Linked DNA regions of Homo sapiens: region 2 is linked to region 1. The links come from fine-mapping of genetic effects on gene expression. Tissue or cell type: whole blood. Region 1 holds a variant in brackets; the other region holds the start of a gene. All regions are shown on one strand. Distances are from middle to middle.

Region 1 (8,100 bases):
GGGGGTCTGGATGCACAGTAGTCAGCACATGCTGTGCTCCCATAATGGCTTGGCCCTCCTTTGGTGTTTTGAGAACCTACCCTGAGGTCAGCCTGAAGTTCATTTGCAAGCCTGGTGAGCACTCACTATCTCACTGGGGCAGTGTGACAGAGTGAGGTCTTCAGTATTGCACTGGGATGAAGTGTCCACGAGTCTTAGAAACAAAAGTCACAGTTGCTCTTGGGGTTGGGCTGGTTCCTCCATCCCAGTTTTAGCAGGATGTGGCTGTGGCCACAGGGATCCTGCTGAACTCTTAGACTGTCCGGTGGGTGGGCACCAGTGCCAGCACCGGGGAAGGGAATGTGCAGTAGGCATCCTGCAGGCCTGGGCTCAGTATCTGCAAATGACCTTCAGTGAAGAGCCTGCTGCCTCGCTTGGCAAGAGGGAGGCTGGGGGTGGGCGTGGAGGGTGGGATCTCAGATTCCTTCTGTAGGAGCTGGTCCATGAAGCCAAAATTGGACCAGATCATGCTCCTCCTCTGCTTGATGTAATTGAAGGTCTCCTTCAGGCAGAGCTGTCTGGTCTTCATGGGGGAAGACTTGCAGCTGGTGGGTGAATGGGAGATTCCAGCCTCACAGTGGACCAGGACCTTGCCTCCTTTTCCCCTGACACAGCCAATGAAGTCCATTGCATATATATATATATATATATATATATTTTTTTTTTTTTTTTTTTTTTTTTTTTTTTTTTTTTTTTGAGACGGAGTTTTACTCTTGTTCCCCAGGCTGGAGTGCAGTGCCGTGATTGCAGTCTCTGCCTCCCGGGTTCAAGTGATTCTTGTGCCTCAGCCTCCCCAGTAGCTGGGATTACAGGCACTCACCACCACAGCTGGCTAATTTTTGTACTTTTGTAGAGATGAGGTTTCACTACTTGGCCAGGCTGGTCTCGAACTCTTGACCTCAAGTGATCAGCCCGGCTCGGACTCCCAAACTGCTGGGATTATAGGCATGAGCCATGGTGCCCGGCCTGTCTATTCTTGAAAGTGGGAGTTAGTGTCAGCCATATGGCTGTCTTCCATGGGGATCCATTTGTAGTGAAGATGGGTCCTTTGGGTCTTGGAGGTTGGCCTGGAGACCTGTGATATGCAGGTTGGGGAGGAACTCTCCCTTGGATGCATGGTTGACCCTGCCAAAGTAGAGGGAGGGAAAATTTCAACTGGGCCACCCTGGTCATAAGCTGGCCCATAGCTGATGTACAGCACTGGTTTTCCAGACTGGCTGATGAGGGTCACTTCTTTCCTTCTTTTTTGAGACAATGTCTCACTCTGTTGCCCAGGCTGGAGTGCAGTGGCCCGATCATGGCTTCCTGCAGCCTTGAACCCCTGGGCTCAAGTGATGTCCCCGTTTCAACCTCCCGAGTAGCTGGGCCCACCAGCGCACTCTACCACACCTGGCTAAATTTTCTATTTTTTGTAGAGACAGGATCTCTCTATGTTGCCCGGGTTGGTTTCAAACTCCTGGGCTCAAGCTATCCTCCCTCCTCAGCCTCCCAAAGTGCTGGGATCACAGGCGTGAGCCAACGCGCTGGGCCGGCTCTCCTACTTCCTTTTTTTTTGAGACTGAGTCTGGCTCTCTCATCCAGGCTGGAGCGCAATGGTGCAATCTCGGCTCACTGCAACCCGCGCCTCCAGGGTTGAAGCGATTCTTCTGCCTCAGCCTCCTGAGTAGCTGGGATTACAGGCACCCTCCACCACGCCCGGCTAATTTTTGTAGTTTTAGTAGAGAGGGGGTTTCACCACGTTGGCCAGGCTGGTCTCGACCTCTGACCTCAGGTGATCCGCCCGCCTCGGCCTCTCAAAGTGCTGAGATTACAGGTCTGAGCCAATGTGCCAGGCCGGCTCTCCCACTGTCGATCTTGTGGAATAGTTTTACTTCCACGCAGCACTCGGGATATTCTGAGTAGAAGGTCCCCCTTTGAGGAAGGAGACCCGCGGGCCACGGGCAGGCTGGCAGGCAGGCGAGCAGGAGTCGAGTATGGGGCTCGCAGCTTGGGCGGGTGGCGACTGCCCTAGCCTAGATCCATCGCGGCCGCCGCCGCTGCCGCCCTTCTGCCGCAGCCCGGCGCTTTGCCCCGGGCCCGCCGTGGCGCCACCGAGTCGAAGGTGACGTTGAGCGCGCCGCGCACTCTCGGGCGGCGAAGGGCAGGCAGGTCGGGCGGGCAGTGGAGCACGCCGCCGCCTCCTTGCCAGGCATCTAGCCAGCTGGCGCCCGTCGGGCACGTGACCTTCATTCCACCGCCCAGCGCCCCAGCGCCCCCGCCCCCCGGCCCCAACAGAAGCCCTGATTCACATATTTAGAGAAGAAATAATCTCAATCCTACACCAACTCTCCCAGAACATGAAGGAGGAGGGATACTTCCCAACTCATTTTAATTTATATTTGACTTACCCTGATGCTAAAGCCAGTCTAAGACATTACAAGGTGGGTGGAGAGAGAACCTATAGAACAATATATCCTTTATTAACCAATATCCTTCATATCACAAAGTGAATTTAGCAATATATAAGAACCGTAGGCCCTGCAGTGGCTCACACCTGTAGTCCCAACACTTTGGGAGGCCCCAGGTGGGAGGATTGCTTGAGCCTGGGATTTTGAGACCAATAATAAAGAGGATAATAATTCTTAACTTGTTCCTGCTGCTACAACAAAATATCATTGAAACTGAAACCACCTTTGCAAAATTATGACTGAGACAGTGAAAGAGATCTAACTTAACTGACTCCATCTTGCTGCTAACCTCCAAGCTGTCCGTGTTCATTCCTGGACGTAGGCTGAACTAACTTTGGGAGAAACTTTTTTTTTTTTTTTTTTTTGAGACGGATCGTTGCTCGCTCTGTCGCCCAGGCTGGAGTGCAGTGGCGCGATCTCGGCTCACTGCAAGCTCCGCCTCCCGGGTTTACGCCATTCTCCTGCCTCAGCCTCCCGAGGCAGGAGACTAGAGTAGCTGGGACTACAGGCGCCCGCCACCAAGCCCGGCTAATTTTTTGTGTTTCTAGTAGAGACGGGATTTCACCATGGTCTGGATCTCCTGACCTCGTGATCCGCCCGCCTCGGCCTCCCAAAGTGCTGAGATTACAGGCGTGAGCCACCGCGCCTGCCCAGGAGAAACTTAAGTTTATAGTTTGTAGTTTAAACAAAGATGGTAACAGCCTTTTCCCAAAGCAGACCTCCTTCTCGCCTGGAGACTATATTGCCTTTGTAGGACTAACAGTAGCCACAAGATTGGAAATTATGGTTTAAGGGTCATGCAGCTGGAGGTTATAAGATTCTGACCCTCCCTGAACTGCTCCTAAGATCAGTGCTTGATTTTGCAGAGCCTGCACATGATGGATCAGCTGGCCCCACCCAGATCAATGAACTGGCTCATCTGATCTCGTGCCCCTCCTCCCCAACCCAGTAACTGACTGCGTAAGAAGACGGCTTCTACTCCCTATGATTTCATCTCTGACCAATCAGCACTCCTGATTGGCTTCCCCTCTTCCACCA[A/G]GTTATCCTTAAAAATTCTGCTCCCTGAATGCTCAAATGCTCAGAGAGGCTGATTTGAGTAATAATAAAACTCTGGTCTCCCACACAGCCGGCTCTGAGTGAATTAGTCTTTCTCTATTGCAATTGCCCTGTCTTGACGAATCTGCTCTGTCTAGGCAGCGGGCAAGGTCAGGTCAACCCCTTGGGCGGTTACAAAACCGCCTTTGCAAAAATTATAACTGAGGAAATTATGGCAGTGAAAGAGATCAGATCTAACTGACTCCATCTTGCTTCTGACCTTCAAGCTGTCCTTGTACATTCTTGGGTGGATGCCAAACTAACTTTGGGAAGGAATTCAGTTCATGATTTGACTCTGAAACAAAATTGGTAATAGCCCTTTCCCAAAAAGACACAGAGAAATTTAATATAGCAGGCTCCAACTTCCTTGTAAACTCATAAGCTAACTGCCCTTGCCAATTCCTGGGCAGGAACTCCTGGGAGGAATTTAGTTAATAATTTAACCTTAAAGCAAGGATGATAGCAGTCCCTTCCCAAATTACCCTCTCCTTGTTTGGGTACTGACATTGCCTTTGTAAAACTTATGAAAGGCCATAAGATTAGAATTATAGGTGGGTCCTGAATTCTGCGACGACCTATGCAGAGTTTAATAATAACTAGCCATTGTTTTCTAATTTGCTTACTGCTCAGAATTCATACAGCTAGTGGTCACGAGATTTATAATTTCTCTAGTTGCCCCTATAGGTAACATCACTATTGTAAAACCTAACATTGGTATTTGTGATATTTTTCAGGCATTGCATTCTGGTGGAACAACTGATGCCACCCAGACTTGTGACCCCCACCCAGGAACTGACAGAGGCACAGAGACAGTTTTGATAACCCTGTGGTTTCATCCCTGACCAAACCAATCAGTATTTCCCATTCCCTAGCTCCCTGCCTGCCAAACTATCCTTAAAACCCTAGCCTCCGCATTCTCTGGGAGGCAGATTTGAGAATTGTCTCATCTTCTCGCTTGGCTGGCCTTGCAATTAAACATGTTCTTTGCTGCAAAACCTGCTGTTCTCAGTGCATTGGCTTTTCTGGGCAGTGGGCAAGAAGAACCTCTTGGGCTGTTACAAAACCATATGATGATCTCAAAAAATGCACCCACAAGAAAGGCATTTGAAAAGAAAGTCTAGGTCAGGCGCAGTGGCTCACACCTGTAATCCCAGCACTTCGGGAGGCTGAGGTGGGTGGATCACGAGGTCAAGAGATCGAGACCATACTGGCCAACTTGGTGAAACCCCGTCTCTACTAAAAATACAAAAAAAAAATAGCCAGGTATGGTGGCGAGCACCTGTAATCCCAGCTACTCAGGAGGCTGAGGCAGGAGAATCACTTGAACCCGGGAGGTGGAGGTTGCAGTGAGCCGAGATTGCGCCACTGCACTCCAGCCTGGTGACGGAGCGAGACTCCGTCTAAAAAAGAAAAAGAAAAGAAAAGGAAGTCTAACATCATTTATGATAAAAACTGTCAGTATACTAGTAACAGAAGAGAATATCCTCAACCTGATAATTGATATCAGTAAAATACCTACATCTAATATCATATTTAATGGTAAGAGACTCAGTGCTTTTCCACTGAGAAAGAGAACAAGGTAAGGATATCTGTCCTTGTCACTCCTATTCAACATTGTAATGGAACATTACATTAAGATTATAAAAAAGCATATAGATTGAAAAGGAAGAAATAAAACTATACTAACAGATTACATAATCGTCTATATAGAAAATCTCAAAGAATCTACAAAAATGTCCTACTATAAGTAATAAGCAACTTAGCAAGGTCACAGGATATGTGGTCAATAAAAAACCAATTTTAATTCTGTACAGTGAAAATTGGGGCAAGGAGTGGTGGCTCACGCCTGCAATCCCAGCACTTTGGGAGGCCAAGACAGGCAGATCATGAGGTCAGGAGATGGAGACCATCTTGGCTAACATGGTGAAACCCTGTCTCTACTAAAAATACAAAAAAATTAGCTGGGCGTGGTGGTGGGCGCCTGTAGTCCCAGCTACTAGGGAGGCTGAGGCAGGAGAATGGTGTGAACCTGGGAAGCAGAGTTTGCAGTGAGCTGAGGTCACGCCACTGCACTCCAGCCTGGGCAACAGAGTGAGACTGTCTCAAAAAAAAAAAAAAAAAAAAAAAGAAAAGAAAAAGAAAGTTGGAACTTGAAATGTTAAAAACCGTCTGGGTATGGTGGCTCATGCCTGTAGTCCTAGCACTTTGGGAGGCCGAGGTGGGTGGATCATGAGGTTGGGAGTTCGAGACCAGCCTGGCCAACATGGTGAAACCTTGTCTCTACTAAACATACAAAAAAATTAGCTGGGTATAGTGGCGTGAGCCTGTAGTTCCAGCTACTCGGGAGGCTGAGGCAGGAGAATCACTTGAACCTGGGAGGTGGAAGTCACAGTGAGCAGAGATCGCAGTGAGCCGAGATCGTGCCACTGCACTCCAGCCTGGGCAACAGAGCAAGACTCTGTCTCAAAAAAAAAAAAAAAAAAAGACGAAGAAATGTAAAAATCATTGTGGCCAGGCGCAGTGGCTCACGCCTGTAATCCCAATCCCAGCATTTTGGGAGGCCGAGGTGGGTGGATCACGAGGTCGGGAGATCGAGACCATCCTGGCTAACACGGTGAACCCCATCTCTACTAAAAATACAAAAAATTAGCCGGACATGGTGGCGGGCGCCTGTAGTCCCAGCTATTCGGGAGGCTGAGGCAGGAGAATGGCATGAACCCGGGAGGTGGAGTGTGCCACTGCACTCCAGCCTGGGCAACAGAGCGAGACTCTGTCTCAAAAACAAAAACAAAAACAAAAAACAAACAAACAAAAAAACCATTGTAATGTGAAGTACCATTGAAATGTAAAGTACCATTGCCAGTTGCAGTGGCTCATGCCTGTAATCCTGGCACTTTGGGAGGCTGAGGTGGGTGGATTGCTTGACCCTAGGAGTTCAAGACCAGCCTGGGCAACATGGGAAAACTCAGTCTCTACAGAAAAAAATACAAAAAATATCTGGGTGTGGTGGTGCATGCCTGTAGTCCTAGCTACTTGGAGGCTTAGCTGGGAGGACCACTTGAGCCCCAGGAGGTTGAGGCTGCAGTGAGCTGTGATGGTGCTGTTGCTGGGCTTTTCCTTAGTTCAGCTAAAGATGGAGTCCTTGTCACATGGCCATGAGAATCTAGGCTTGCAGACAATTTGAAGAATGAGAAAAATGGGATTTATTGGGCCAAATGGGAAACAGAGGGAAACAGGGACTCTCAGCAGAGTGAAAGTACTGTTAGTATGTGCTTCCTGCCTCATGGATTGAATTGCAGGTTCCACCCAGGTAAAGGAGGGGCCAGGCTCCTCCCCACTGCAAACAGCAGGAACTTCTGTGTCTCCATCCCAATGTGCACTCCTCCCAGTGCACAGGCTGGTTGAAGTTTCTCTGGGGACCCCTTCCCATCTGGCTGTCTCAGTGCCATTGCACTCCAGCCTGGGTGACAGAGTGAAACTTTGTTTAAAAAAAAAAGTATCCTTTATGATAACACCAAAAGATGTGAAATAGGTATAAATCTAACAAAATGTGTGCAGCAGATTTACACAGAAAACTACAAAACCCTGATGAGAAAAATCAAAGGAGACTAAAACAAACGACAAGATATATCATGTTCATGGATAAGAAGACTCAATATTATTAAGGTGTCTTAAATTGATCTGTACATTCAGTGCAATTGGTTTTAAAGTTCTAGCAATATTTTGGTAGTCTACAAGCTGATTCTAAGAATTACGTGGAAAAGAAAAGGAACTAGAATGGTCAAAACAATTTTGAAAAAGAAGAAGAAGTCTAGGTGCGGTGGCTCATGCCTGTAATCTGAGCACTTTGGGAGCCAAGATGCATCACTTGTGGCCAGGAGTTCAAGACCAGCCTGGGTAACATAGAGACACCCCATCTCCAGAAAAACATTTTTCAAATTAGCTGGAGGCTGGGTGCGGTGGCTCACGCCTGTAATCCCAGCACTTTGGGAGGCCAAGGCGGGCAGATCACAATGTCAGGAGATCGAGACCATCCTGGCCAACACAGAGAAACTCTGTCTCTACTAAAAATACAAAAAATTAGCCAGATGTGGTGGTATGCACCTGTAGTCCCAGCTACTCAGGAGGCTGAGGCAGGAGAATCGCTTGAACCTGGGAGGTGGAGATTGCAGTGAGGAAAACAAAAGAAAATTAGCTGGGTGTGATAGTGCACACCTGTGGCCCTAGCTACTAGAGAGGCTGAGGTGAGAGAATTGCTTGAGCCCAAGAGTTAGAGACTGAAGTGAGCTAAAAACAAACAAACAACAAAAACAAACAAACAAACAAAGTTGGAGGACTCATAGTACCTGATTTCAAGTCTTACTACAAAGATAGATAATCAGGGTAAAGTAATATTGGCAAAAGGATGGACACATACATCAGTGGAACAAAACAGAGTCCAGAGAATGATCCACACACAAATACCAATTAATTTCTTTTTCTTTTGAGACAGAGTCTTGCTCTGTCACCCAGGCTGGAG
Region 2 (8,098 bases), 130 kb before region 1:
TCTTTATTCCTGTCACTCTTCTATCTGTGCCTCTCACCTCTCTCTGGCTAGTGAGCCCTGCTTGACCAGTTTTCCAGAGCTGCAAGGTAGAGGTGGCCTTACCGGTAATAGGAAGTTGGCCGGGGTGGGGCATCAGGGGTGTCCTGTTCCAGCTCCCGATAGACCACCTCTGGCAGCTTGGGAGTGGTGCTCGCAGAAACATTGTGGTGGTGGTGATGGTTGGAGTCCTTGCGCTTCTCCTTGTTCTTATGTTTGCCTGACTTGGGAGTAGCAGCTGGTGTCTCAGTGTTCTCCTTGTTGCTGCCATTCTCAGGGGCCTCCTCGGGGGCTTCCTCATCCTCTGACACCACATCCAGGTTGTCAAAGATGCTGATGCGGTGGACGCGGCCATGCAAGTCCACCTCCACCATGCGCTGGGCCTGTGCATAGCTCATCACCTCACGGCCTGGTGACTGTGAGACCTCTGAGGGGCTGGGTGACTGCTTGTTGGCTGGGCGTGACTGGCGCCCCTTTTTCTTGTGCTTGCGGAGTGGAGTTTGTTGTGGGGGTGGTGGGTTGTCGTGGTCATAGTGGTACAGGTGGTACTCAATACCACTGTAACTCTTGTAGACCTTTCGGCAGGTCTCCACCGGGCACTCGTATGGTGGCTTAGTCGCCCGCAAGTTGTGGCAGAAAGTCTTCACATCAAAGTCCACCCCCATGCTGTCACATCTAGAATACACAGATCAGTTAACATAAGGCTGGGGATGAGTTCCTGGCCATTTGCACCAGAGACCCCAGTCTTTCTAGCCCTCCCCCTCACTTGGAGTCACCAGATTCTGGCCAGCCTACCTCTACAGTGTCTCCAAATGCCATCTCCTCCACCATAGCCCATATCTGGGCCCTCATCACCTCTTGCCTGGTTATCCTGCCCTATGTCTCAACTTCTTTAGCCCAATCTCACATCATGTAGGAGAATGATCTTTCTACCAGGTAGTAATGATCATGACACTCTCTTCATTAAAAGCCTCCTGATGCTCCCAGTTCCTTCAAGATAATATTCCAAATTCTCTATGATGCCATTCAAAGAGCTCCTTTCACTGACTGGCCCTAGTCCTCCTTTCTTTTTACAAGTTACAGCTGTTTTTGTCTACACAGGGGATCTTGCCATTCCCTGAATGTTATAACCTCTCATTCCTGCAAAATGATCCCTATTTGGAATGCCCTCCATACTTTCTGATTGGTGGGCTCCTACTCATTCTTCAAAAAACCAGCTCAAATGTCACTTCTGACACAACTTCTCTGACTCTCCCATGGGGAGCTGTTTCCACAGCATTCCATTCTCACCTCTACCACAGCACTTGACATACTGAAAGTTGTCTCCCCCCTGGACTGGGAGCTGTGTAGCAAGGGTACCAGAGCCTATCCACCTCTGTATCCCCAGTACCTAGCATGCACTGGACATTCAGTTTTTGGCGAACGAATGAATGACCTGTTGAACGAATAGCTGAATGAGGGGATCACCAGACTGAGAGCTCAGATGGGATGAAGGCCATGTAGAAAGCTGAATGGGTGGGTGGCTAATGCTTTAGCGTTGGACTCCTGCAGAAATCACTGGATCACAGAAAGAATTCATTTACTTTTGAGGTCTTTATGGGGAGCCTGGCCCTGGTACTGGGTAGGAGATGTACTGTGAAACAAAGTGAAAACTGAGGTCATTTAGTCAGTGACAGCAGCTTGTATTACATTTGAGCTGTTCACCCACTCACACATCAACTGAGTGACTACCAAGTGCCAGGCCCTAAGGGTACAAACACGAACGCGACAATCTAGGCATGCTCAGCTCCATGCTGGTCCGCAGGGGCCCTCCCTCCCCGCTCCCCAACATTCCTGGGTGAGTGTAGACAGCAGATGGCACCAGGCCTCAGGAAGCCCAGCTTGGTCAGAGACTGCCCCAATTTCTCTCGGCCTAGTTGAGTTCAACCATTCAGCTAGGGGCTTGGCACCATCCCAGCCAGGCAGGGCTATCATGAGCTCCCTGACAAAATAACCCCTCTTGGCCTCTCCACCTGTGCCTTAACCAGGCAAGTGGGCTGCTCCAGCTCCACTGTCAACGGCTCCTGATTTTCACATCAGTAACGCTACACGTCCAACTGCAACTCTTCTATTTCCTACCTGCGGCTGTGTCTTTAAACATAAACCAACCGAAGCACAAACAAGCTCTCCTCTTTCCAAGCTGGGTCCCGGGTGAATGGTTCCCAAAGTAGCACAGCGAATCAGCAATCTCCCCTTGGAACCCGGCAGCAGAGGCACAGGCGAGGGAGACGAGAACTTAGACCAGAAAGCCCGTGGGGAGGGCCCAAGGAGAATGGCGGCTGCATCTGCCCCTGAAGCTCAGGGGGCTGGAGGAAGTAAGGGGCGGGGGCCGGAGGGATAGGGCTGGGCCCCGGCAGTGCCCGCAGCCCACTCTCCGGATGCGGCGGCGTTTCCCCTTTGTGGAAGTGTAACAAGTGAAACAAGGCTCCCCGCCTGCCACTAGCCCGGGCAGCCCCGAAAGATACACTGTTGCCCCAGGATGCCTGCTGGGAAGCAATGCACTGTCAGTTCTCCCAACTGGAGTTGCCAGAGAGGTTCCCGGGCCACGCGGCTCAGTGCGCGTCCCACGAACGTAGCCTACCCCTTCCCTGCCGGCCACTCCCGCCCTGGTCCCAGGCCCGCACTCACCGGCCACCTCGAGTCCGGGCTCATCGCCGGGGGCGCCCGCCGGGGCTCCGACCCCACTTGGGGAGGTCGGCGGGGAAAGTCGGGCCGGGAAGGGGGAGCCCCAACTCCGGAGACCGTAGACCTCGCCACCCCGGCCCCCTGCCGCCCCACGCTTTGGTCCCGGCTCCCCGGGATTCCTGAGCTGACCCCTGCCGCTCCTGGTCCCGCCGGCGCCCTGGGGTCTCAACTCCGTCGGCCGCCGCCCGTTTCGCGAGCCCCCAAGATGCCCGGTCTCGGGACCGGGCGCTGCTGGAACAATGGAGGCTCCCAGAGGCAGCGCGAGGACAGCGGCGGCGGAGACCGTGGCGGCAAAGGCTGTGGCAGCGGCGGCGGCAGCAGCGGCGGCGACGGCGTCTGCGCAGGGTAAACGTGGCGCCGCGGCGCTACTGAGCTGCACTTTCGCCACGGATCCCCGCCCGCCCGCTGAGGCTCGAAAGACCGTGCTCCGGGATTCAGAAAGGACCCTGGACACCCCACAGGGCTTCTCTAGCTCTCCCATCTTAGAGTGGAGTTTCTGGAGACTGAAGTCACCGTACTCGGGATCTGGGGTCGTCGGGCGGTTTGTGGCGAATCTGCAACCACGGACGGTGAGCGCGGGGCTGGGCGTGAGGAGCCCGCCCTTCTCCCCTCCCCCTCTGCCTCCTCCCTATCCGCTCCCTGCCTCCTGCTGGCGCCGCGGCTGCGGGAGGGACCTGGCCTTGGTCTCGGAGGAAGGCGGTGAGGCGGGGCCAGAGTCACGGGGCGGGGCTGGGGGCAGGGCCGGGAGCAAGAGGGATGCGGGCTGGAGCCTAAGGGACCGGTAGTTATGGGTAGGACCGGGGCGGGGCTGGAGACTAGACCGGTCTGTGGGGCGGGGCTTGTGGGAGGGGGCGGGGCTACCGCACAGCGGGGGCCTGTTAGAATAGCGGGGTAAAAAGTGGGGCTAAACAGAAGAAGAGTACTCGCGAGAGAAAGGGCGGAGCTTTGGATGAGCCTGGAAAGTGGAGCTGGACTAGAAATAAAGAACAAAGTTGGAAAAAGCGATGCGACGCTGAAGGGAGCAGGCGGGGCTTGGTAAGGCAGGGGCGGAGCTGTGGGGAAAGGGCAGGACCGATTAGGGATAACGGGGCGTGACTGAAGGAAAGGGAAGAAACTTGGGAAAAGTAAAGGAGAGGTGCTAGAGAAAAGGTATGGGTCTGAGAGAAGGGGCTGGTTTGGGGCCGGTGGGTGTGAAAGGGCTTGTCTGGTAAAGCGGTGGGAAATCTGTGGGTTGGCAGGGATGTGCTGCGGGTTGCTGATTGGAACATGGTGCCAAAACAGCTGATTTAATGTGAGTGGGTCACCTCCTAGCAATGTGAACGTGGGCAAGTTCAGTTCTTTAAGTTCCTTATTTGTAAAACAGAGCTCGAAAACTCTGTTGTTAGTTCTTGAGGGTTTCAGAGAACTTGCATGGCAGGGGGAGACATCCTTAAACAATACTTCTCCAGTTTTGTCATCAAAGAGGAGCGTGAAAGGTCTTCCAGGGTTCTGGGACAAAGCCCAAAGCATCTGAAAGCTTCTATCTTCTTAATGCAAACTTTGCATTTGACCCAATAAAATGTATGTTTTCTAAAAACCATCCCAATAAAATCGACATGCCAGGAAGAGGTTTGCTGATTAAGATCTTGGGATCTGAAGTCAAACTGATGAATTATCTTAAATGACTCATCTTCTCAGAGCCTCAGTTTCCTTATGGGTAAAGTGGGAATAATATATAGTACCTGTTCTCAGAGTTGTTGTGAGAATTAAATGAGATGATGCTTGTAAATCACCTAGCACACGGTTTGACATGTAGTGAATGTTCAAAGAAAATATTAGCTGTTATTATCCTTATTAAAATAATTCAGAATAGATGGATCAAAGCAGAGTTATACTAAGTTATCTCCTTTAGTGGTCAGGAATTCGTTTGAGAATCTGCTGAGAACTATGGGTCGTGTGTAGGATTCGGATTTTATGGAAAAAAGAAAAAAAACAACTATGGGCCTCTCTCCTGAGGAAAAACATACAAAGTTTCACTTATTAAGGTCTTTGAAGAATGTATGAAGAAGTGATTGGATGAACGTGTTAGGATGGGGATGAATCTAACTGAAGCCATCCTGGTTCCCTCCCTCTTGATGTGGCCCCAGTCGTTGGGTCCCATAGTCTTCCTTCGCCAACATGCATGAGACAGAGGTGGAATAAAGATCAGCTTTATTATTGGCATGAAGGCAGAGAGGTGGTGATAGTGCCAGGCCCTCTGCAGGCAAGGAGGCGGAGGGCTTGTCAGCCAGCACTGATCCTCCAAGTTGGCCCTCCCAGTGAAGTCCAGGGTTCCAGGTGCCTCTGGCTTAAAGCAGAAGCAGTGGGTGAGCAGGCTTGCAGACTGTGAGGCATTGGATATGTGGAATCCTCAGGGCTGCTCTGGAGCTGGGATCGGGCTGGGGTTGGCAGGGGGTGGGGGCCGAGGCTGGATGTCTCTGGTGCGCATATAGGACAGCAGCTGCTCCGGGATCTCGGCCAGCACATCCTTGGCCAGTCGGGCCATGCTCAACACCTGGTTCCCCGACCGGTCAACATAGTCTCGGAATGGGACGAACTGGGTCAGGCACAGACAAGAAGAGATAAGCCATGACCAGGAGAGAGGGCATGGGGGTGCAGCAGGGAGGCTTCTTTTTTGATCCCCAGCATCTCTTTCCAACTATCACAGTATCTCCCTCTCCACATCTTGAACAGTTTTCTACATTTGCTTTCTCTCCACCCACTTTTTTTTCCACCTTTTATTCACCCTCAACCCACTCCAGTTTGGCTTCACACAGGCCATTGAAACTGCTTTTGCTGATGTCGTCAGTGGCCCTGTGTTGCTAAATCAGTCCAGTGAACAGTAATTTTTAGTCCTCATCTTGCTTGACTTCTCTTTAGCTTTCCATTACATTTGACCATAATTCTTCTGGACACGTCCCACTCTTGATACCACACTCTTCTGGCTTCTTGCTTACCTTTCTTGAAGCTCCCCCCTCCCACCACCATTCCTCTGGGTCTATCTGCTCTCTAAACCTGGTCCCTTCTCTCTCTCAGCTCTCTTCCTGGATGATTTCATACACTTCCATGACTTTAAAAATTGTTCCCTGGAAGGAAGTAGAGCAGGCCAGGAGGTGGGGAGGGAGACTGGAAAGGAGGGAGCAGGGGAGACAAGGGGCAGGGACCAGAGAGAAGGGATCCTGAGAACAGGAGGAGGTCAGAGAGATGGAGCTGGGGCAAGAAGGAGGAGGAGTCTGTGAGAAGGGGCTGGGAAGAGAGAGAGGCCTAGGAGAGGGACTTAGGGAGAGGAGAAGAAATGAGATGTGGGGGGAGAGGGGCTGATAAGGGAGAAAAAAAACAAAAGAAAATCTGTTTCTAATGACTGCCAAATGTATATATCCATCCATGACCTCTTTTCAAAAAATTATGTTTTATTTTTATTTATTTTATTTTTTTCTTTTGAGACAGAGTTTCACTCTTGTTGCCCAGGCTGGAGAGCAATGGTGCGATCTCGGCTCACTGCAATCTCTGCCTCCCGGGTTCAAGTGATTCTCCTGCCTCAGCCTCCCAAGTAGCTGGGATTACAGACATGCACCACCACACCCGGCTAATTTTATATTTTTAGTAGAGACGGGGTTTCTCCATGTTGGTCAGGCTGGTTTCGAACTCCTGACCTCAGGCAATCCGCCCGCCTCAGCCTCCCAAAGTGCTGGGATTACAAGCGTGAGCCACCGCGCCCGGCCTTTATTTTTTTAATGTAGCAGAGATCAGGTCTTGCTATGTTGTCCAGGCTGGTCTCAAACTCCTGGTCTCAAGAGGCCCTCCTGCCTTGGCCTACCAAAGTGTTGGGATTATAGGCATGAGCCGCCATGCTTGGGCCCATCCCTGACCTCTTTTTAAGGTCTAGAACCACATATTTAGTTGCCCATATTACCACTCCATTCAATTGTCACAGATACTTCGAACCCAGTGTGTTCACAACTGAATTCTAGCTCTTTCTGCCAAATCTCCTCCTCTAGCTTTCCCCTTCCCAGCAAATGGGATGTCACTCACCCAGTTGCTTAAGCTAGAATACTGAGTCATCCTTGAAGCCCTCCTCACTCCCTGTCATCATCTAATCATCAAGTCTTGTAAAATTTTCTTCTTAAATATCTTTTGAACCTGCCACTTTCTCTCCCTCCCCACTGCTTCTAGCCAGATCTTTATCGCCTCCCCTCTACTACTTCAAAGGCTTCCTCACTAATGAGTCTACCTGCCTTTTCTCTTGCCCTGTTACTGTCCACCCACCATGCAGCAGCTAGAGAGATCCTTTTAAAATGCCATCTCACTCCTCTATGTAAAATCCTTCAAGAGCTTTCCAATTCTAACATACCCCCAAATTTTGCCTCCCTCCTCACACTCAGTGTGATCCTGCTACCCTAGCTTCTGCTTTTTCGTGGATCGGGCCAGTTCTTCTGGGCCTCAGAGCCTTCTCACATGCTGCTCCTCTCCCTGTAATGCTTATCCCCTCCCTTAGGTCTTGGCAAGCTAAAGAACCCTTTCCTGACTACTGTACCTATGTTAGGTCCCTGTTACAGGCTCTCACAGTGGCATTTGCTATTCCTCTGGAGTACTTATCACAATCTAATGAGATATTTCTTTGTGTGATTATTTATTGTTGGTTGTCTCCACTAGAGGGCAGGGGCCTTGGGGACCTCCCGACCTACACCACGGATGTGCCAAGGCTGCAGCAACCTTCCTGTTTGTCAAAAAGGATGTATTCAATGAATGAGAAAGGATGAAAGAGTGACGGGGGAAAAAAGTAGGAGACTGAGAAGGCAGTAAGTGAAAGTGGCTCCCAACTTAGCCTCTTCTCACTGTGCCTCTCAGCTCCACAGCCTCTCCCACGTCAGGTCTACCTGAACGATGTCCCGCTCTGCGTAGCGTCCCCTAGAGGACACGCGCACATCATCACCGTCCAACTCTTCCATTGCTGCAGAAAAGACACACCCCTCAGCTGATTGGCCTCTCCAGCCCCACCCCATGCTGCCCCCTCCCTTTGAGCTCCCCTTTGGAGTCATCAGGAGAATGCCTAATGCTTGTGATCAAGTCCTACAAATATCAGTCTTCGTTATGGAGTTATTATTACTATTATTATGCCTCCCAGGCAGTCCATCCTCCCAGGAACCCCAGAGGGAAGTATTAGTATCATCAGCCTTGGTTCTGATAAGGAAACAGGTTCAGAGAAGGTCTGTGACTTGACCAAGGCTTCACACGGGGGTGTCTACCTTGTGTCATCTGTGAGGCAGGCCCAAGTACCCGACCCCCTCCCACTTTTCTCCTTAGTTCTTAGTCCCACTCA

Evidence for each region. PIP is the estimated chance that this variant, and not a neighbour inherited with it, causes the effect.
Region 2: BRPF1 starts here. The variant in region 1 is fine-mapped to the expression of BRPF1 in whole blood (INTERVAL, PIP 0.95).

What each region holds. Positions count from the first base shown.
Region 1 is chr3:9,594,879-9,602,978 of GRCh38, reverse strand. LOC105376949 (a long non-coding RNA gene) reads left to right here and starts at 2,292. Exons shown (of 3, transcript XR_940586.1): 1 at 2,292-2,459; 2 at 3,353-3,446; 3 at 4,316-4,558. It also overlaps the pseudogene DUSP5P2. The variant A/G (reference allele first, on the strand shown) is at 3,525.
Region 2 is chr3:9,726,744-9,734,841 of GRCh38, reverse strand. BRPF1 (bromodomain and PHD finger containing 1) reads right to left here and starts at 3,107. Exons shown (of 14, transcript NM_001003694.2): 1 at 2,704-3,107; 2 at 103-711. The coding sequence starts at 701. CPNE9 (copine family member 9) reads right to left here. Exons shown (of 21, transcript NM_153635.3): 20 at 7,656-7,729; 21 at 4,934-5,335. The coding sequence ends at 5,150. RefSeq lists enhancers at 1,992-2,551, 3,112-3,671, 7,364-7,413 and silencers at 2,629-2,758, 2,769-2,818, 3,289-3,648.